Linked DNA regions of Homo sapiens: regions 2 and 3 are each linked to region 1. The links come from fine-mapping of genetic effects on gene expression. A gene starts in region 1. Each other region holds a variant in brackets. All regions are shown on one strand. Distances are from middle to middle.

Region 1 (7,326 bases):
CCAACTCTCAATGCTGCCACCGTGACTCTGCCTTGAAGGAGAACAGAGCGGGGGTGAGGGTGGGGGCCTAGAGCGTCCAGGGCGGTGCCCGGCACCCCCAATATAGCAACTGCTGTCAGAAGCGCCGGATTCCAGGGAGGAGAATGCCAGGCAGGTCACACGATCCAGCCAGGGATTAAATGGCAGGCGGGGGTGGGCGGTGGGCAGAAGGCCCCACTCCCCCAACTGCCGATGAGAGGACTCCTGCCCAGGCTAGGGCCTCTGTTGCCTTCCCTTGAGTGACAAGACAACCCTGTTACCCGAGAGGCCAAGTCAGAGGGTGCCTGGCCACATCCCAGTAGCTCCCTGTACTGAGGAGGGCACGAAGGGAACCAAGAGGCCTGGCTTCTGTGTTGGCCAGGAAGCCCGAACAAGTGTATGTAACTGTCTCCTCCTAAGGAGGCCCCAGCTCCCTCTAAGATGGAACTCCTCTGTGTGCTCAGCTGCCATGCCAGGGCTGGTGTGAAACTCAAACCAAGCAACGCACCAGAAATACGAGGGGCCCTGCAGTCACGGAAGATACTCATCTCACTCCACACATCCACTGAGGGCCCGCAAGGCTCCGTGGGGAACACACAACCCGGGCCTGCCCTCCAAAGGCCTGGCGTCCAGGGCAGCATGGGGAAGTGAGAAGCGATGGCCAACTATAAGAATGTCTCCCAGGCTGGGTGTGGTGGCTCACGCCTGTAATCTCAGCACTTTGGGAGACTGAGGTGGGTGGATCACCTGAGGTCAGGAGTTCCAGACCAGCTTGGCCAACATGGAGGAACCTCGTCTCTACTAAAAATATAAAAATTAGCCAGGCGTGGTGGCGGGAACCTGTAGTCCCAGCTACTTAGGAGGCTGAGGCATGAGAATCACTTGAACCTAGGAGGCGGAGGAGGTTGCGGTGAGCAGAGATTATACCACCGCCTGGGCAACAGAGTGAGACTGTCTCAAAAAAAAAAAAAAAAGTTCCCTAGAATCGCAGAGGACGGCAAGCCAATTCCAACCCCAGAGCCATGGCCCCAGGGACTCAAGGACACAGTGGCATGTGGCTGCTCCCCTCCTGCCTCTGGGCAGGGTCTCAGCTGTCCCCAGCACTGACTGACTCACAGACCCTAGAAGGAAATCGCTTCCTCTCTGAGCAGGCCCAAGGGACACAGCCAGACCCAGGAGGACAGTGTGCGCCCTTTGTCCCCAAAGCAGGGCGCTGTCACAGCGCTTCCTCCAAACTCATGCACCTCTGCTTCTCCTTCAAACCTCCAATTAAGGCATCTTCTCCTCAGTCACTTCCCCTGTTTCTCTGTCCTTGCTCCTGTAGCCCCGGGTGACCCTTCAGCCGGGGTGTATAACCCATGGAGTTGTGGCTGACAGGACAGTGTCTATCTTCAGTCACCGACAGAGGCTTCCAGGATTCTGATTTGTGTGTCCCCACGCGCTGGAATCAGCAATAATTAGTTAAGTGAGAAAAGAAGCGATGTCCACCTGGAGCGCAGGAAACGCGCCCGCTCCAGCAGCTGTGGGAATGCTTGGTCCAAGTGGGCTTCCCCCTCTGCTAACAGGAGACAGAGCTAGGGGCTCCGCGGAGACCCAGGCAATGGAGGTGCCCACCAGGGGCCTCACAAGCTCGTCACTTGGTTCCCTCTGCAGTGTGTCCTGTCTGCCCAGAAAGGACCTGACAGGGCGATGGAGAGAAAGAGAGCTGCTGCCATGAATCACAGGGCTCTGGAGCCGCCCCAGTCCAGCCTCAGGAGCCTGGGGCCCCTTGCCTGTTCCAGCCTCCGAGTTCCCTGCTCCCCAGAGAGCTGCCCCCCACCCCTTCCCTCTCTCTGGCCCCAGAACAGAGCAAGCTGTGTGTACCGGGCTGGCACAGCTCCCTCCGGCCTCCCAGAGCAAACACAGGCCCAAGCCCCGGGTGCAGCCAGGCCCCACAGCCCCAGCCTGACCTCTCAGCAAGCAAGCAAGGAGGGCTTGCACCTTGGCCCCCATTGAGCAGGTTGGCACCCTGTGCCTCCTGAGCTCAGCAGAGACCCAAATCAGTCCCCACCGCAGGCAAGAGCTCAGAAAGCAGGTAATGCAATCTTCCCAGCCCCGGGAGCCAGCACGTTCGGCTCCGAGAGGTCTTCCTGGGCTTGGCAGGGTCTCCTTGCAGCTGCACGGGCCAAGGTAGGAAGTCCCTGGTTCAGGGAAGACCCAGTCTCCCTACCTGAGGCCTGAAGGTACCCGGCCCCAGACCAGCCCCAACCTCTTCCAGAAGCTGGGGGCTTGCCCCTGGGAGGGAGCTCAGCCATTCTGCCTGGCCCATCCCTGGAACCTGAGTCACAGGCTGCGCCCAAGGGCTTCTTTCCCGGGCAGCCCCTCCCGGTGCGCCCGCAGCTCTAGGATTTGAGGACAGAGCGGGGGGGAGGGGAGGGGGCGTCAGTAGGCTGGTCCGAAGAGGGACAGCGAGGTTAGAGGGGCTGGAACCAGAAGCCAGAGCCAGCCAGGAGATCAGGAGGCTGGGGGAGGGGGTGGCGCAGCCAAAGCGGGAGGAGGCAGGGCCAGGGAGGGGCATAACAAAGGGGCACTTTTGGAAACCCGACCTGCCGGCCGGGGTGCCTGCTTCCAGATGACGCACTCCGAACCCCAGCCTCCACTCCAGAGCTCGGCGCCCAGAGGCTACGCGCCTCTGGCCTCAACCCTTATGGACCGCGCCCCTCGACAGGACCCCTTGCCGCCCGGAGCTGCATAACTCGGAGCCCGTGGAGCCACGCGGAGCGGCAGGGCCAGGCCTAGCCACCGAAGCTCTAGACTTCTTGGCCAAACTTGTTGAACTTGGTCTTGGCGGGGGTGGGGCCACTGATCACCGCCAAGGGGAGGGGACGCCCCCTGCCTGGGCCGGCCTTGCCGTGGGCTCCAGATGGTGGCCCCGGGCAGCGGACCCAGGAATCGGGGCTCGCTGCATAGGGCGAGGGATCGCCAGGGAGCGAGGACCCTCTGGGGCCTCGGGGCGGGCGCGAGGCGAGCGGACGGGGGCCCTCGAGGGGCCCCTGAAGACGGCTCAGCCCTCCAGCGCCGGCGCCGCCTCCCCCGGGCGGCCTGCGGAATTGCGAAGCCCGCGGCACCGCAGATGGGACGGCCCCTCGGCGCGGCTACGGCCCTTCCCGTCGGCACGCAGAGCGGGGTGGCCGGGGGCTCCCTGGGCGGGAGTCGGCTCCATTGCAAACTTCAGAAGCCGGAGCAGGAGAGGGCGGGCTCGAGCCACCGCACCCGCCGCCGCCTACCCGCGCGTCCCCTCCAGGGCACTCACCGCGTCCTCCCTGGGCCCCTCGGCGGGTGGGGGTCCGGCCACGCTCCGGCCCGAGTCCTGCCGCTCCTGGGCCCGCGCCGCGGCCTCCCGGAGCGCGCCGGGCCCTCCCCCGGGAAGCCCGGCCCCCGGCCCCCGGCCCCGCCCCTCTCCTGGCCGCCGCTGCCTCAACCCCACGCGGCGGGGCAGCGGGGCTGCAGGCATCGCGGCGACCAGCGGCTCTTGTGGCGCGGGTCGAGGTTTCTCTGCTTCGCCCGTGTGCGGAGTGCCTGGGCGGGCTCCCCAGGGTTGCGCCCCGGTGCCGCAGGGAGCCAGATTTCGGCTTTGCCTCTCCCGGACCGTTGCAGAGCCTGGGAGACCCGAGGGAGCAAGAAGGGACCGGGCCGGCACGGGCAGCCTTGGAGAGGGGCCGGGGGAATTACACTGCCTTACATTTTTAGCTGCACAGCTTGTTTAGAAATTGGCTCAGGCGAGGCTCACAACCACCCCTTGTAAGCATTAGGATTCCCACTGTACAGATGCAAAAACTGAGGCTCGGGGGCTTTTCAGAGGCTTGCCCAAGATTTCCCTCTAGTCAGGCAGGGCTGGGACTCCAAAACCGTGCCCTACCGTTCCACAGCTGCCCTGCTAATCTGGGGCGCCTTCTAAGGCCTGAGACGAACACGCGGTGGGGGTGGGACAAAAAGGCCTAAGCTCCTCCCGCTCCGAGTTCTTATTTCCAGATTTTGTACCACGATTCATTCTTACCCTTCGCCCCTCCACCCCCTTTATCAGTCTGGTACATTTTTCCATATCGCCACGATGCCACCCCACGCTAAATAAATCCCTTCTCCCTCCTCTCTCCCTACTTCCCTCTCCCCGCTTTCCCCCGGGGGTGAGATTTTGCAGAGCGGCTCCGTCTGTTATTTATATCCACTGGAGCGGTCCAAGAATGTTCCGAAGCTGACCTAATCGCCACCTGCTCGGCCTCTCCGCCCCTCCCACTCTCTCCTGGGCCCGGTGACCCAGCGGCGGTGCCCTGAGCCTTGAAGACCAGGGGGAGCGCGGACCAACGGGGTCGAACGCCCGGGCGCAGAAGGTCCCGGACGCAGAAGGTCCCGGGCGCGCAGAATCGCAGCGGGTCGGAGAGCCCCGGCGCTCTCAGAGGAGTGCGCCCCCAGGGACGCGGCTCTGAGCCCTGGGAAGCTGAGGCGCCTGGCTGCGCCCTCTGAAGCTCGTACTTTTCCTCCCACCCTCAGCTCCCTGAAGAGTGTGAGTGCGTGCGCGCGGAGTTTTAAACGGCAGCTTTAAAAATAGCAAAATTATGTTGTTTCTAAATCCAGGAGGAATCACTGACGCGTTCTTTACGCAGATGAATCCGCTCACAAAACGGGAAAGGGACCTGGAGAAAATGAATGGGGGTAATTTTGCCTGCCGAGGGCTCACTTGCTGGGCAGTGCTAATGGAAGGGTAAAACTGCCTCCCCAAGACACCTGTGGGGCACCCAAGGCGCGCCACCTTTGGCCTGAGGATTCTGGCCGTGTTTGGCAAATCATAGCTGAGTAGTGAATCTGAAACCTGGGATGTGGTTTCTGAGACCAATTTCAACACCCACTCTCTCTTAGGGCTTGGACAAGTCCCTTATCTCTATTTCTACCTCTATAAAACATGACAGGTGACCAGCTGACCTTCCGCTGAGCCATGAGCCCCAGCTAATTAATGATTGTAAAAAACAACTGCAGATCAGAGGAGCTGGGAAAATGGCAAATCACAGCCACAGGGTTTTGTATTCTTTAAAATCAGTTAACATCCCTCCTAGCGCCTGAAGGCCTTTAGGCACCTAGACCGAAGTGTGAAAACACAAGAATGAAATTAATTACAGGAGCCACCTATTAAAACCTCATTAAAAATAAAGTTGGCAGCCAGGCTGTGGGATCTGGGAAAGCCAGGCCATAGAGAGACTCAGAAAACAGGGCTGTTCATCAGACCACAAAGAGAAGGGGATGTGGACTGGAAAACATCTGGCTTCCCTTGGGCTCAAGTCTGGGAGCAGAAAGCAGAAATGTTGCAGCTGATCTTAATTGCCCCTGAGGTACTGTAGGGGAAAAAAAACAACAAAATAAAACCCAGAGCATAGGGGGCTGCTTCTAAGCTGAAAGTAGACAGACATGCCTTTGGAAAGCCAGCTCCAAGCTAATGCTACCCCCAGGGCTCCCATTCTGCGCTCTATGGCCAGAGCCCTTAACATCCACACTGCTCCATCAGTGCTGTCCTCAACCCAGAGTTCAAGATGAGATGTCAGTGGACAGAGGGCTGCATAAAGACAGAAATCTGGTCGGGCGCGGTGGCCCACGCCTGTAATCCCAGCATTTTGGGAGGCCGAGGCGGGTGGATCATCTGAGGTCAGGAGTTTGAGACCAGCCTGGCCAACATGGTGAAACCCCATCTCTACTAAAAATACAAAAATTAGCTGGGCATGGTGGCGGGTGCCTGTAATCCCAGCTACTTAGGAGGCTGAGGCAGGAGAATCGCTTGAACCTGGGAGGTGGAGGTTGCAGTGAGCTGAGATCGTGCCATTGCACTCCAGCCTGGGCGACAAGAACAAAACTCCATCTCAAAAAGAAAAAGAAAAAAAATGACAGAAATCTAAGGCTGGGCACAGTGGCTCACGCCTGTAATGCCAGCACTTTGTGAGGCTGAGGCAGGTGGATCACCTGAGGTCAGGAGTTCAAGACCAGCCTGGCCAATAATGAAACCCCATCTCTACTAAAAACACAAAAAAACTAGCAGGCGTGGTCGTGGACGCCTGTAGTCCCAGCTACTTGGGAGGCTGAGACAGGAGAATTGCTTGAACCCGGGAGGCTTAGGTAGCTGAGATTGCGCCACTGCTCTCCAGCCTGGTCGAAGGAAACTTTCTCTCAAAAAGAAAAAAAGACAAATCTAGCAAGGCATTTGGCTCAGGGTACCAATGGGCAGATTGGTCCATAGCCAGATTTCACGCCACTCACAGACTCACCTTGAGTTTCTGGAATATCCTAACCACTGTGCCTTCATTTGTTTATTTATGCATTCATTCACCCAGCCAAGAAAACACTTGAGTTTTTACTCCATGCTAAGGCTATGCTAGGAATGTTGGGAGTACAAAGTTAAATAAGGCAGAGTCCAAGTGTACCGTAATGATGCAAGGCAGATAGGAAGTATTGAGAGAAAACAGGCAGAAGGGACGGCCTTTCACAGGACATGACACTGATAGGTCTTGATGAGTAGGAATTAGTCACGTGGACAGGCATTCTAGGCAGGAGCTTCAGGGTGTGCCAAGCCCCAGGGGTGTTACCATATGACTTTGTGACCTAGCAATTCTACTTTTTGGTATTTACCCTGGACGAACATGTACAAATGCAGAAAGAGGTACAATGATGTTTGCATATAGTACTGTTTGCAACAGGGGAGAACTGAAAACAAATGTTCATCATGAAGGCAATAGTTGAACAACCTAAAGTTCATTCATGCTGTGGATTACTCTGCAAAAACTCAAGAACAAGCTAGAGGCAGGAGTTCGAGACCAGCCTGGCCAACAAAGTGAAACCCCTTCTCTACTAAAAATACAAAAATTAGCCAGGTGTGGTGGCGTGTGCCTTTAGTCCCAGCTACTTGGGAAGCTGAGACAGGAGAATCGCTTGAACCCAGGAGGCGGAGGTTGCAGTGAGCTGAGATTGCGCCATTGCACTCCAGCCTGGGAAGCGAGAGCAAAACTCCATCTCAAACAAAAACAAACCAAAAAAAAAAAAAAAAAAAAAAAAAGAACAAGGTAGAGAGAGACATATTCTTTTTTTTTTTTTTTCGAGACGGCGTCTTGCTCTGTCGCCCAGGCTGGAGTGTAATGGCGCAATCTCAGCTCACTGCAACCTCCACCTCCCGGGTTCAAGCGATTCTCCTGCCTCAGCCTCCTGAGTAGCTGGGATTACAGGCACGTGCCACCACGCCTGGCTAATTTTTGTATTTTTAGTAGAGACGGGGTTTCACCATGTTGGTCAGGCTGG
Region 2 (7,326 bases), 450 kb before region 1:
CGGATCCGCATCACTGACAACATGTTCTGTGCTGGCAAGTCTGTGCAGGGCGGGCTGAGGGAACAGTGGGGCCCAAGCTGGGAGAACTGAGTTGTGCCTGGGTTCAAGCCATGTGACTTTGAGCAAGTTGCCTAACCTCTTGGTGGCTCAGTTTCTTCCTCTGTAAAATGGAGGTAAAAGTCTCTATCCCATAAGGTTATGGGAGGGTTAAATGAAGTAGTATATATTAATGTACTTGGCATAGTATCAGTCACCAGTGAGCTCAGATAGCAGCAAGAGGCTGCGGGTAGGGAAATGCCATTCATTCAGTCACTCAGCAAATATTTATTGAGCGCCTATCACGTTCCAGGCAGCGTTCTAGGGTATACAGCAGGGACCCAGACGGACAATGTCTGTGCCCTCAGAGAGCTTCCTTCCTAGGAGGGCACATCCATAAACAGATCTAAAACAGCAATCCCTGACCAGTGCTGTGAAGAAAAATGAAGCACAGGGAGAGAGAACGGCTGATGAAGTGGGCTTCTAAATAGGGTGGCCAGACAAGGTGGGCAGATCACTTGAGGTCAGGAGTTCAAGACCAGCCTGGCCAACATGGTGAAACCCCGTCTCTACTAAAAATACAAAAATTAGCTGGTCATGGTGACGCATGCCTGTAGTCGCAGCTACTCAGGAGGCTGAGGCAGGAGAATTGCTTGAGCCAGGGAGGCGGAGGTTGCAGTGAGCTGAGATCGGGCATCATTGCACTCCAGCTGGGCAACACAGCAAGACTCCATTGATCGATCGATCAATCAATCAATCAGGTGGCCAGAGAAGGTTGGAGAAGGCCTCCCTGAGAAGGTGATGTCTGGGCAGGGACTGGAAGAGGGGAAGGAAGGAGTGAGCAGGCATATCTAGGGGAGGAGCACCGCAGGCTGGGGGCATGGCAGGCACTAAGGCCCTGAGGTGGGAGCACTCTTGGCTTGTCTGGGGAGCAGTAGGGAGGCCTGGGGGGCTGAGGAGGGGCAGCAGTGGGTGAGGGGAGAGAGGGGGGCAGGCAGAGGACAGCCACTTCCTTTAGGGCCTGGAAGGACTTTATTGAGTGAGATGGGAAGTTATTGAGGGGCTTGAGGCAGGTTAAGAAATGATGTGACTGACTTTAAAAGTAAAAAATAAAAAAATTTAGTGTAATTTCAGACTCACAGAAAAGTTGTAAAAATAATACAAAGATTTCCTGTATACTGTCATCCAGATTGTCCTCCATTCTGTGGATGTGTGGGAATTTTTATATATATATATGCATAGTTTGAGAGCAAATCATGAATATGGTTTCTTTTTACCCATAAATACTTGAGTATTTCCAAAAAAAAAAAAAATACCCAAGGATGTTCTCTTATGCAACCACAATACAAATATTAAAACCCGGAAATTTTTTTTTGACATAGCTTCGCTGTCACCCAGGCTTGAGTGCAGTGGCACAATCTCGGCTCACTGCAACCTCCTGCTCCCAGGTTCAAGTGATTCTCCTGCCTCAGCCTCCTGAGTAGCTGGAATCACAGGCATGTACTACCATGCCTAGCTAATTTTTGTATTTGTAGTAGAGACAGGGTTTCACCATGTTGGCCAGGCTGGTCTTGAACTCCTGACCTCAGGTGATCCACCTGCCTCGGCCTCCCAAAGTGCTGGGATTACAGGCGTGAACCACTGTACTCGGCCAAAACCAGGAAATTTTTTTTTTTTTTTGAGATGGAATCTTGCTCTGTTGCCCAGGCTAGAGTGCAGTGGCATGGTCTCGGCTTACTTGGAATTACAGGTGCCTGCCACCACGCCCGGCTAACTTTTTGTATTTTTAGTATTTTTAGTAGTGATGGGGTTTCACCATGTTGGCCAGGCTGGTCTTGAACTCCTGACCTCGGGTAATCCACCCACCTCGGCTTCCCAAAGTGCTGGGATTACAGGCGTGAGCCACAGCACCTGGCCCAAAACCAGGAAATTAATGATGATACAATATTATTGTCTAATCTATAGACCTTATTCAAATTTTTGTTAGTCTTGCTAATGTCTTTTATAGGGAAAAAAAAAAAAAAAAGCGTGTTTCTCACCCAGGATTCAATGAAGGATCTTTCTTTGTCTTCTATGACCTTGACATGTCTGATGAGTGCAGTCTGGTTATTTTGTACACTGGCCCTGAATCCGGGTTTGTCTAAGGTTTCCTCACGGTCAGGTTCGGGCTCAGTGGTGCCATGTCCTTCTTGGTGCATCCTGTTAACTGGCACATGAGAACAATTTGTCTCATATGTGGTGAGTCTAACTCTGACCTCTTGAGGAAGGCAATGTCTGCCAAGTTTCTTGCTGTAACTTCTGTTTTTCCCTTTGTAATTAATAAGAATCTGGTAAAGAGACACTTTGATGTTTTTTTTTTTTTTTTTTTTTTGTGATGGAGTCTCCCTCTATCACCCGGGCTGGAGTGTGTGGTGCGATCTCGGCTCACTGCAACCTCCATCCCCCAGGTTCAAGTGATTCTCCTGCCTCAGCCTCCCAAGTAGCAGGGATTACAGGCATGTGCCACCACACCCAGCTAATTTTTGTATTTTTAGTAGAGATGGGGTTTCACCATGTTGGCCAGGATGGTCTCGAACTCCTGACCTTGTGATCCGTCTGCCTCAGCCTCCCAAAGTGCTGGGATTACAGGTGTGAGCCAATACGCCTGGCCTACTTTGATATTTTGTATTCTGTTTGCATCAAAACCTTCTCCCAACTAGGGTGACTACCAAATGGCACTTATCTAATTCTGTCATTCCTTCTACATTTGTTAGTTACTTTATTGCTTTCCTTCCTTTCATTCTATCAGTGTGGACTTAAGGATCCTTACTTTATTCTAAGGGTTCACCTTTTTTTTTCTTTTTTTTTGAGATGGAGTTTCGCCCATGTTGCCCAGGCTGGATGGAGTGCAATGGCGTGATCTCGGCTCACTGCAACGTCCTCCTCCCAGGTTCAAGCAATTCTCCTGCCTCAGCCTCCTGAGTAGCTGGGATTACAGGCATGTGCCACCACGCCTGGCTAATTTTTTGTATTTTTAGTAGAGACAGGGTTTCACCATGTTGGCCAGGCTGGTCTCGAACTCCTGACCTCAGGTGATCCGCCCGCCTCAGCCTTCCAAGGTTCTGGGATTATAGGCGTGAGCTCTACCGTGCCAGGCCATACTTTGTTACTACTGTTATTTTTTCTGATGCTCAGATGATCCCAAGTTTGGCCTGTGGAAGTCCCTTCAAGCTGGCTTCTGTGACTTGGGGAGATGTTCTGTCATTCTTTGAGTACTTTCTTTCTTTCTGGCACAGCAAAATGATTCAGGTTAATCCTACTTTCCTTACTGTAGTGTTGGAACCAGCCATTTCTCCAGGGAACCCTTGTAGTCAAGAGTGGAATTTAGAACTGAGATCTGGGTGCTGGCGTGTGCACATTGCTAGTGGGATGTCATTACTTCTAGGCTCTCTTAGTGGACAGAACCAGAAAAAAATTATATGATGCATATACCAATATCTCTATCATCTATATAAAAAACCATGAGTTCCTACTGAAACCTCCAATTCCATTCTAACACCACAGGATTAATTTTAGCTTTTCCTTTTCCATATTTGTAACTCTCTCTGTTGACAGTGAGAAACCTGACCCTCATTATCTGTAATGCATTTGCCTATTTGAACAATACTAGAATATAGTTTCAAAATCCTCCATCCATAACACTATTAAAACCAATCCTATGGCTGGGCTCAGCCCACTGCAACCTCTGCCTCCTGGACTCAAGCCAGCCTCCCACTTTAGCCTCCCGAGTAGCCAGGGCTACAGGCACACACCACCATGCCCAGCTAATTTTTGTATTTTTTGTAGAGACTGGGTCTCACTGTGTTGCCCAGACAGGTCTTGAACTCTGAGCTCAAGTGATCCATCCAACTCAGCCTCCCAAAGTGCTAGGATTACAGGTGTGAGCCACCATGCCTGGCCTCTCCTAGTAAATTTTTAGAAGTGGTGTTGTTAGGTCAAAAGGCAAACATGTATGTCATTTTTTAGAGATTTTTAAATTTCTTTCCATAAGGGTTGTACCAGTTTGCATTTCCATCACAGTGTATGAGAATGCCTGTTTCCCCACAACCTTGCCAAAAGAATGTCACAGTTTTAAATTTTTACCAATCTGAGAGGTGAGAAATAGTATCTTGAAATTGTTTTAACGGACATCTTTCAAATTGAAAATGAGGTTGAACATCGTATCATATGATTAAGGACCTTTTTTTTTTTTTTTTTTTTTTTTGAGATGGAGTCTCCCTCTGTCACCTAGGCTG[G/C]AGTGCAATGGCACGATTTTGGCTCACTGCAACTTCCGCCTTCTGGGTTCAAGCGATTCTCCTGCTTCAGCCTCCCAAGCAGCTGGGACTCCAGGCGCGAGTCACCATGCCCGCTAATTTTTGTATTTTTAGTAGAGACAGGGTTTTACCAGATTGGCCAGGCTGGTCTCGAACTCCTTACCTTGTGATCCTCCCGCCTCGGCCTCCCAAAGTGCTGAGATTACAGGCATGAGCCACCACGCCTGGCCTAAGGACCATTTTTATATAATTTTTTTTTTGAGACAGAGTCTTGCTTTGTCACCCAGGCTGGAGTGCAATGGTGCAATCTTGGCTCACTGCAGCCTCCACTTCCCTGGTTCAAGTGATTCTCCTGCCTCAGCCTCCCGAGTAGCTGGTTCCACAGGTGCGTGCCTGGCTAGTATTTGTATTATATAATTTTTTTGTGAATTGTCTCTTCATGGTTTTTTGCCCATTTTTTGGTCCCTTTCTTATCAATTTTTGTGAGTTCTTCGTATTTATATTAGGCCTTTATTTGTGATATACATTGCAAATGTTTTCTCCTAGTTTGTCAGTTTTTTTAACCTCATGTATAATTTTTCTGGCCATGCAGTTTAAAAAATTACTAGGTAGTCAAATTTATCAATCATTTATTTTATTAAATCTGGATTTTGAATCAGAGATAAACTTTTCCTGGCCAGGTGTGGTGTCTTACACCTGTAATCCCAGCACTCTGAGAGGCTGAGGTGGGGGATCACCTGAGGTCAGAAGTTCAAGACCAGCCTGGCCAACATGGTGAAACCCTGTCTCTACTAAAAATACAAAAATTAGCTGGGCGTGGTGGCTGATGCCTGTAGTCCCAGCTACTCAGGAGACTGAGGCTGGAGAATTGCTTGAACCTGGGAGGCGGAGGTTGCAGTGAGCAGAGATCGTGCCGCTGCACTCCAGCCTGGGTGACAGAGCAAGACTCTGTCTCAAAAACAAAACGACAAAAAACAACAACAGAAAAGCCTTTCCTGATAGCTAGGTCATTGAGGAATTCACTCATGTTTTCTTCTAGTACCTGATTTCATTTTTCTGCACTTAGATTCCTGACTCATATGGAGTTTATTTTTGTATCTGATGTGAGGCATAGATCTAATTTATTATTTTCCAAATGGCTAACTAGCTGTCTCTAAACCCTTTATTAAAAATTATTGGCCAAGTGCGGTAGCTCACACCTGTAATCCCAGCAGTTTGGAAGGCTGAGGCAGGATTGCTTGAGGCCAGGAATTCAAAACCAGCCCAGACAACATAGCAAGACCCTGTCTCTACAAGAAAATATTGGTCAGGTGTGGTGGCTCACGCCTATAATCCCAGCACTTTGGGAGGCTGAGGCAGGTGGATCATGAGGTCAGGAGATAGAGACCATCCTGGCCAACATGGTGAAACCCTCGTCTCTACTAAAATACAAAAAATTAGCTGGGTGTGGTGGCGCATGCCTGTAGTACCAGCTACTCAGGAGGCTGAGGCAGGGGAATCATTTGAACCCAGGAGGTGGAGGTTGCAGTGAGCTGAGATCACGCCATTGAACTCCAGCCTGGCGACAGAGCAAGACTCCATCTCAAAAAAAAAAGGAAAAAGAAAATATTTTAAAAATTAGCTGGGCATGGTGGCATGTGCCTTGTAGTCTCAGCTACTTGAGAGGCTGAGTTAGGAGGATTGCTTGAGCCTAGGAGTTCAATACTGCAGTGAGCTATGACCGCACCATTGCACTCCAGCCTGGGCAACAGAGTGAGACCCTGTTTCTATTAAAAAAAAAAAATCGGCTGGGCGCGGTGGCTCACGCCTGTAATCCTAGCACTTTGGGAGGCCGAGGCGAGCGGATCACCTGAGGTCAGGAGTTCAAGACCAGCCTGACCAACATGGAAAAACCCTGTCTCTGCTAAAAATACAAAATTAGCCAGACATGGAGGCACATGTCTGTAATCCCAGCTACTCGGGAGGCTGAGGCAGGAGAATCGCTTGAACCTGGGAGACGGAGGTTGCAGTGAGCTGAGATCCCTCCATTGCACTCCAGCCTGGGCAACAAGAGTAAAAACTCCGTTTCGCCAGGTGCGGTGGCTCACACCTGTAATCCCAGCACTTTGGGAGGCCGAGGTGGGTGGATCACAAGGTCAGGAGTTTGAGACAAGCCTGGCCGACATGGTGAAACCCCATCTCTACTAAAATACAAAAAATTAGCCTGGCATGGTGGTGTGCGCCTGTAATCCCAGCTACTTGGGAGGCTGAGGCAGGGGAATCACTTGAACCTGGGAGGAGGAGGTTGCAGTGAGCCGAGATGGTGCCACTGCACTCCAGCCTGGCAACAGAGCGAGACTCTATCTCAAAATCAATCAATCAATCAATCAATCTTTGAACTAGTGATTTGAGATTTCACCTTTATCACATTCTAGATTGTATCTTATTTTCATTTATTTATTTGAAATATAGACAAGTCTCCCTGTGCTGCCCAGGCTGATTTCAAACTCCTGGCTGGGCTCGAGCAAGTCTCCCGCCTTGGCCTCCCAAACTGCTGGGATTACAGACGTGAGCCACCATACCTGACCTAGGTTTTATTTTTTAGTTTTATTTTTTCCTGCATCCAGCTAATTTGATTTGATTTGTAGAGACGGGGTCTTGCTATGTTACCTAGGCTGGTCTCGAACTCCTGGGCTCAAGTGATCCTCCTGCCTTGGCCTCCCAAAGTGTTGGGATTACCAGCATGAGCCACGGTGCCCAGCCCCACGTTCTAGATTTCTATGGATAGAGTATGCTTAAGGATGAGTATGTTTCTGGATGTTCGACTCGGCTTTCCTGGTCTGTTGTCTGTCTGTGTACAGCGTCACATTGTTTTAATGATAGAGGCTTTAGCGTACATAGCTGGGAAGGCTAATGTTCTCTTTTAGTTTTTCTTTCCAGTGGTTTCCTGGCAATTCTTGCATGTTTGTTTTTCCATATGAACTTTAGTGTCAACATGCCTAGGTCTATAAAAAAGCTT
Region 3 (7,326 bases), 20 kb before region 1:
ACGGATCATTACAGGAACTGCCTCCCAAACCCCTGCAGAGCTGAGGCCAAGACTAGGCATTCCAGCCCCGAAGCTGCTCCAGGATGCAGTGGCTCATTGCCTGTAATCCCAGCACTTTGGGAGGCCAAGGTGGGCCAACTGCTTGAGCCCAGGAGTTCAGGACCACCCTGGGAAACATAGTAGGACCCTATCTCTACAAAATAACCTTAGCCAGGCATGGTAGCTTGCACCTGTAGTCCCAGCTACTTGGGAGACCCGAGGTAGATCACTTGAACCCAGGAGGTTGAGGCTGCAGTGAGCCATGATCGTGCCACTGCACTCCCGTCTGAGTGACTGACAGAATGAGACCATCTTAAAAAAAAAAAAAAAAAAAAGCTCAGGCTGCGTGATGAGCTCTGTAGGCCCACAATGATGCACAGCCCATAAGAGACATGGTTCTCAAATCCTGGTGTCCTCAGAATCACAGGAAAGCCTACTGACGATGCAAATTACCAAGCTCCAGAGAGTCTAACTCTATCAACTTGGGATGGAGTCCAGAAATTCCAGATGATCCCAAAGCTGAATGAGTCCCAAACCTACACTCTGCAAATCCCTGGCTTACAGCCCCCTGGCTCCCTCTGCCCATCCTTTCTAATCATCCACTTCCCAGACCAGTGGTCTGTAACTACCGTGAGGACTCCTAAGGTGGCACAGAGATGTTTCAGAAGCCCCCAAGAGAAAGGGGTGGCCAAGCTAAGGATTTACACACAAACACACACCTTTTCTTCCCTAAATTTAAAGGGTCCCATTAACGTCTAAGAGTATGTGTGTGTATGTATATATATGTAATTTTTTCTTTTTTGAGACAGGGTCTCACTTTATCACCCAAGCTGGGGTGCAGTGGCGCGATCTAGTCTCACTGCAACCTCTGCCTCCCGGGTTCAAGTGACTTCTGCTTCAGCCTCCTGAGTAGCTAGGATTACAGGCATGCACCACACCGCCCCCACCCCGCTAATTTTGTATTTTTAGTAGAAATGGGGTCTCACCATGTTGGCCAGGCTGGTTTCAAACTCCTAGCCTCAAGTGATCCACCCGCCTCAGCCTCCCAAAGTGCTGGGATGACAGCCATGAGCCACTGTACCCGGCGTTAAATATTTCTTAAACTCCACTGAAACCCATCCCCAGTCAAGCCTACTGCCGTGACAAGGGGCAGGACTGCTGAGGTTGCTCGCTCGCCCTCAGCCAGCGAGTTAAAGGGCCAACTAATGCCAGCTCTTTCCTCTGCGTGCCACAGGGTGGTGAGGTCGAAGCTGCACCGGACCTCACGGCAGCACAGAGCCAAGGAGCCAGGGGCCTTTGGCTTTCAGAGAAGAGAGAAGCAGGAGGCCCTGGAGAGAGTGTCCTCAGCTTCGGTACCGACGCCCTACCATTACCGGTGGGAGCCCAGAGAGTGAGGCCAGGGGCCGGCACTGGGCAGGGAGGCAGGATCCAGAGGACACTGCTTCACTCAGACCAACAGGGAGCCAGGCCCTGCAGGGGCTTTATTTTGACACCACTTTGTTTCAATACAAACAGTCCAGAAAGAAAGTCAAGTCCCTCTGGGGGAGGGGCAAGGGGAAGAGTGGTCTGTGTTGCTTGGGAGCCCAACCTACAACCCAAAGGTGGGGGCTGGGCTGAGACTGCCGGTGCGGCAGGGGAAGATGGCACCAAGAATGACAGTGCTTGGCTCAGCTGCCAGAGGGTGAGGCCCACAGCTCTCACTGGCGGGTGCTGTCCAGGCCAAGCCCAGAATGATGCAGAGGAAGGAGCTCAGCCCCAGGAGCCTGCCTCTGCCTCTCACATCCTCTGCTTCCCTGGCCAGCATCAAGCTCACAGCATCCAGAGTCGAATCACAGCAGACAAGACCCTCCATGGCCACCAACCCGGGGAAGAAGGGATAAAGAATGTCACAGAGGGTCCTGCATTCCACAGCAGATGGTACAGAGGGACCCTGAGACACCCTGAAACAATCTTCCAAGTGCTTACTGTAGAAAGGGGTGGTGAGACGGGAGAACCCAAGGGTCTCCGGTCTGATCCCAAATGAAACCTTTAGGTACCAGGTAAAGTTTCCAGCCCTTGGTAACGCCCAGACAAAGGTCCTTCCCCTCTCCTGGCACCCAGAAGAGGCCACTGGCAGCAGCAGCAGCAGCAAGTCCGCAGCCTCTTTCCCCATGGGACGGGTCTACAGTGAACTCCTTCCAGGCCTCCCCCTGGTTCCAGAGGATGGGGACCCAAGGCCTCGAACTAGAAGAACCCTAGAGCCAGCAAAAAAAGCCTTCTACCTTCCGCTTTCCCTACCTGGGGAAAGTCTGGACCCAGAATAAGCCATCGTGGGGGAACCCCCTTTCCCAGTATGGCAGGATAAGTGAGCAGCAGCTGTGGGGGCAGGACAGAAGGACAAGAGTCTAACACACGGAGGGTGGTGTGAGAGGGAATAAAGGGCTCAGTCCACAGGCAGAGGACAAGGGCTGGTACTGACCATTCCCCTCACAGGAGTGAGCGCCTCAAAGGCCACCCCACACACACACCACACATACGAAGTAACAAATCCTCCCCAGCTTCCACAAGGCAAAGCATCCCCAGCCTGGGAACTGTGGAGTTCTTGTTGCCGTCACCATCGTAAGCCTGAGTCACAGAGCTCGGATCAGTAGGAACCGTAGCGATCCTGGGGGCGAGGGGGGAGAAAAAAAAAAAAAAAGTCAGAGGCTCTAAGCTGCAGCAGCTTCCCAGCAAACACACTGCCTGCCCCAGCACCCCACAGCAAGACTGGGGAGGCAGGGGCTGGACAGCCCGGTGAGGCAGGAGTCCACGGTGAGAGCTGGGGCAGCGGCCACTCGGGCACCCGACAACAGGGAAGCCCTGCCTGGCCTCACAGAAGCTGGGAAGAGAAGAGAAAGAGCGGTACAGGTGACAAGGCCAGGGAAGATCATGGCAGACACAGAGGCATCTTGGAGAGGCCCGGCCCTGGCACGGAGCTGAAAGGAAGGAAGCTGCCCTCCAAGAAAATGCCTCTCTCTAGACTCTTGCTTTTTCGTTTGTGGTTTTTTTTTTGAGACAAGAGTTTCACTCCTGTCACCCAGACTGGAGTGCAGTGGCATGATCTCAGCTCACTACAACCTCCAGGTTCAAGCGATTCTCCTGCCTCAGCATCCCGAGTAGC[G/A]GGATTACAGGTGCACGCCATCATGCCCAGCTAATTTTGTATTTTTAGTAGAGACGGGGTTTTGCCATGTTGGTCAGGCTGGTCTCAAACTCCTGACCTCAAGTGATCCACCCATCTCAGCCTCCCAGTGCTGGGATTACAGGCGTGAGCCACCACACCCGGCCGAAAATGCTCTTAAGGCTCAGAGGGGCTGAGCAGTAGCAGTGTCTCTATGTGGTGGCGAAGGGCAAACCTCCCAGCACTCCTCATTAGGCCCCACTTCAGCCTCACCTGCAAGGAATTCATCACACCATTGGCCAGCACAGCCATTTTCCCAGCCACAGACTTGACACCCTGCTTAAACTGGGCAATGTCCGCTGTAGGCAGCACGTTCCCCAGAGATACACTTCCTGTAAAACAAGAGCAGGGTGACCCAGAGCCCAGCAAGAAGCCCTTCCCAGTCACAGCAGGGCCCTCCCGCCCTGCTCCCAGGCCTCACTTGGTGCCTGCCACCCCACCAGGGCCCTACCTGCTCCGTGAGCTCCATCCATGTCCCCAAAGAGGTCTGAAGAGCTGATGGCACTGCTGCCTGAGAGCTGCTGCAGCCGAGACCTGGCCTCATACTGTGGTGAGGAAAAGGCCAGGCCTGGGGATCTTGGGGCTGATGACCCAAGGACTCACACAGGCCAGGCCCTCCTGGTGCTAAAGCCCAAAGCAGCGGCAGGGAGAAAGCTCATGCTTCTGCCTGCTGCCTCGGACCTCAGGGCAGACAGCCCCACTTACCTCTGCATCCACCTCCCGCCCAAAGAACATGTCAGATGAGATGGCTTTGGCTCCTGCGAATTTCTGACGCGCCTCACTAGACTCGAGGCCTGAGCTCCGGCTCTCCACTTCCCTCCGGTTTGTGGCTCTGAGGGGAAGATGTGGAATATCTCGGACTCCTCCCATTATCATCAGGGGAGGCAGAGTACAGAGGCCAAACAGAGCACCAGTGGCCTTTTGGTGATGGGTTACCAGGTCCCATTCTGTCTGTGGCTCTGTGGCTCTGGGCCCCTCTCCCCTGGTGAGGAGTCACCCTTCTCCACATTGAGGCCAAGGCCCAGAGAGCTTAGGAACCTGCACTAGGCAGGGTGGAAATACAGCCTGCAGTGGCCTAGGCTCCTGCCCAAAAGCACACAGCTTCGTCAGCATTCAGGAGGCCACACAACTGCTGCTACCCTAATCCTAGTGACAACTTGCCTAGTACTACAATGAGCATATGTGTCGGTCTGCCTGGCTTTATACCTACTCTTGTCATAACTATGAATAGCAAACTGCCCCCTTTACTCTCAAAAGCATCCTGGTGTGGAAAGGGAGATGGTTGCTCTCATCTCACGCTGAGTATGTGGACACTGGGCCAGGTATTTCCGGAGACCCTATGAAGTAGTTACGTTCCCATTTTATACGGGGATAACTCACAGATATTATGTCAACTAAACAGATCCCAGATTAAGATGGAGTAGGGTTTTAAAAAATAAGAAGGGGGCTGGAGACATAAAACCCCTGAAAGGAGGTCAGGACTGAAGCATACAATCAGGCTCCTCCGGCCAGAGAAATGGACCCCAAGCAAAAGAAGCTGCCAGGCCCTCTATGATGACAAAGCACAACTCAAACCGAAGCCTGACTGCTGCCCTGTCTAATGAGGCAGGCACCAGCCACTGGTGGCTATTTACGTTTATCAGAAATTAAACTACATCAGAAATTGTTGCTCAGTTGCACCAACCACATTTTAAGGGCTCATAGCCACATAGTAGTGGCTACCATATTAAACAACACAGAGAACATTCCCATCAACACAGAAAGTTCTTCTAGACAGTGCTGCCTTAGAATTCTCTACCTTCAGCTTGTTTAAAAAAAAAAAAGAAAGAAAAAAGAAAAAACAGCCCACTCTACCTTTCTGAAATAGGCCGGATGCTTGAGATGGTCACTTCTGGCTCCTTCTCCTCTACCCTGTCCATACCCCAGGCAGCATCTGTATCCCAGCGGGAGCCAAAGCTTTCCCCTAAGGAAAAGGGATTGTCCTTGTACCTAGGGAGACAGTAGAGTGGCTCAGAGAAGCCTGATGAGGAACACAGCAGCCAAGTTTACAGCTAGAAAACAGCCTTACTTTGGGGGTCCAGAGGCGAAAGTACCAACATCGTCAAACAAGTCCAGCTGCGAGCGAGAGGATTTTGCACTCACTGGGGTTTCCTGCTCAATCACCTGCATCTCAGACAGCACGGAGTGGGAGACAGAGCTGCGCAGCAAAGCAGAGCCAGGCATGAGACCAAAGGATAGGCATCAGCATCACCGCACAAGAGACAATGCCCAGCAACTGGGTTCTCCTTCACGGAGCGTCACCCAGAGCCTTCTGTCCTTACCCAAGCACAGGGCTGGGCCAGACCCCAACAGAAGGCTAGCTGTGTGTGGTGACCTGTGAAGCACACCTCAGAATTCTTTACACATCAGCTTTGTTTATTCCACGTAGGAGTTCCCTGGCCAGTGACGGTTTGCCTGTTATAATTTAATTTTATTTATTTATTTGAGACAGATTCTCACTCTGTCGCCCAGGCTGGAGTCCAGTGGTGCAATCTTGGCTCACTGCAACCACCACCTCCCAGGTTCAAGCGATTCTTGTGCCTCAGCCTCCCGAGCAGCTGGGACTACAGTGCACGTCACCACACCCAGCTGATTTTTTGTGTTTTTTCAGTAGAGACAGGGTTTCGCCACATTGCCCAGCCTGGTCTCAAACTCCTGAGTACAGACAATCCACCCGCCTTGGCCTCCAAAAGTGCCAGGATTATAGGCGTGAGCCACTGTGCCTGGCTCGTGTTGTAATTTTAATATTGTGCACCAGATGCCAGTGGTCTCTGTCCTGAACAACTCCCTACCTTGTGCACTATGAACCCCATCCTTCACTGATGGGGTTCACAAAGCAAAGGAATGGATGAAGAAATGCCCCAGCACCAGGGAAATGAACATAACTGCATCAAAGAATGAGTTCTTCATCATCCTACTCTTTATTAAAAAAAAAAAAAGCCAGGCACCGTGGCTCACACCTGTAATTCCAGCACTTTGGGAGGCCGAGGCGGGCAGATCACGAGGTCAGGAGATCGAGACCATCCTGGCTAACATGGTGAAACCCCGTCTCTACTAAAAATACAAAAAAATTAGCCGGGCATGGTGGCAGGTGCCTGTAGTCCCAGCTACTTGGGAGGCTGAGGCAGGAGAATGACGTGAACTTGGGGGGCGGAGCTTGCAGTGAGCCGAGATCGCACCACTGCACTCCAGTCTGGGCAACAGAGCGAGGCTCCGTCTCAGAGAGAAAAAAAAAAGCACCTCAAAGCACAAAGACTGGCCTTATGCACTAAGACCTAGAATTGCTGTCTCGTTTCTCAAAGAAAAGGGGTCTAGGGTTGGCAGGCAATACAATACAACTCTTGATGCCTCTCATTCCTCTGTCAGGCTCCACAAGGACACTTTAAGGACTAATTTGATTTAAATCAATTCATTAAAAAATATCTATAGCTTTTAGCTAGAAGAACCCCAAGGAGTGATTATTTTGCAATAGGGCTGAGTTGGGCCGGGCATGGTGGCTCACACCTGTAATCCCAGCACTTTGGGAGGCCGAGGCAGCCGGATCACCTGAGGTCGGGAGTTCGAGACCAGCCTGACCAAGACGGAGAAACCCTGTCTCTACTAAAAATACAAAATTAGCCAGGTGTGGAGGCTGAGGCAAGAGAATAGCTTGAACCCCGGAGGCGGAGGTTGTGGTGAGCTGAGATCACACCATTGCACTCCAGCCTAGGCAACGAGATTGAAACTCTGTCTCAAATAAATAAATAGGGTGAGTTGGGTTTAAGTAAACAATTGTTGCACTGCTAAAAAACTGTTCATATGCCTTAACCCCTTGGTCATCCCTTAACCCAGTCATCTATTAACCCAGTCATTCCTATGTGACTGAAGCAGGGAAAGGAGGGAGACCCAATGTCCTTTCAAGTTAAAATGTTATGCTCTGGCTGGATGTGGCTCACGCCCGTAATCCAAGCACTGGGCGCCGTGGCTCACACCGGTAATCCCAGTACTGTGGGAGGCCGAGGCGGGCAGATCATTTGAAGCTAGTAGTTTTACACCAGCCTGGGCAACATGGT

Alleles and levels. Alleles are on the strand shown, and positions count from the first base shown. SD is a standard deviation of normalised expression in the study named.
In carriers of allele C in region 2, the expression in fibroblasts of the gene that starts at base 3,396 in region 1 tends to be lower than with G alone (small effect, 0.37 SD a copy in GTEx).
For the expression in tibial artery of the gene that starts at base 3,396 in region 1, A is the high allele of the variant in region 3 and G is the other (small effect, 0.23 SD a copy in GTEx).

What was found. PIP is the estimated chance that this variant, and not a neighbour inherited with it, causes the effect.
Region 2: its variant is the best candidate, but not a certain one, in a credible set for the expression of PACSIN3 in fibroblasts (GTEx, PIP 0.58).
Region 3: its variant is the best candidate, but not a certain one, in a credible set for the expression of PACSIN3 in tibial artery (GTEx, PIP 0.56).

Annotation. Positions count from the first base shown.
Region 1 is chr11:47,183,039-47,190,364 of GRCh38, forward strand. PACSIN3 (protein kinase C and casein kinase substrate in neurons 3) reads right to left here and starts at 3,396. Exons shown (of 11, transcript NM_016223.5): 1 at 3,311-3,396; 2 at 1-31. RefSeq lists silencers at 3,025-3,344, 3,395-3,494 and an enhancer at 3,166-4,052.
Region 2 is chr11:46,729,528-46,736,853 of GRCh38, forward strand. F2 (coagulation factor II, thrombin) reads left to right here. Exons shown (of 14, transcript NM_000506.5): 12 at 1-34. Among named protein-coding and RNA genes, the nearest start is that of F2, 14 kb to the left of the region's middle. The variant G/C (reference allele first, on the strand shown) is at 4,311.
Region 3 is chr11:47,162,820-47,170,145 of GRCh38, forward strand. It overlaps ARFGAP2 (ARF GTPase activating protein 2), which reads right to left. Exons shown (of 16, transcript NM_032389.6): 11 at 5,304-5,432; 12 at 5,090-5,224; 13 at 3,941-4,067; 14 at 3,687-3,780; 15 at 3,449-3,567; 16 at 1,482-2,683. The coding sequence ends at 2,663. It also overlaps a transcript of CSTPP1 not described here. Among named protein-coding and RNA genes, the nearest start is that of ARFGAP2, 10 kb to the right of the region's middle. The variant G/A (reference allele first, on the strand shown) is at 3,179.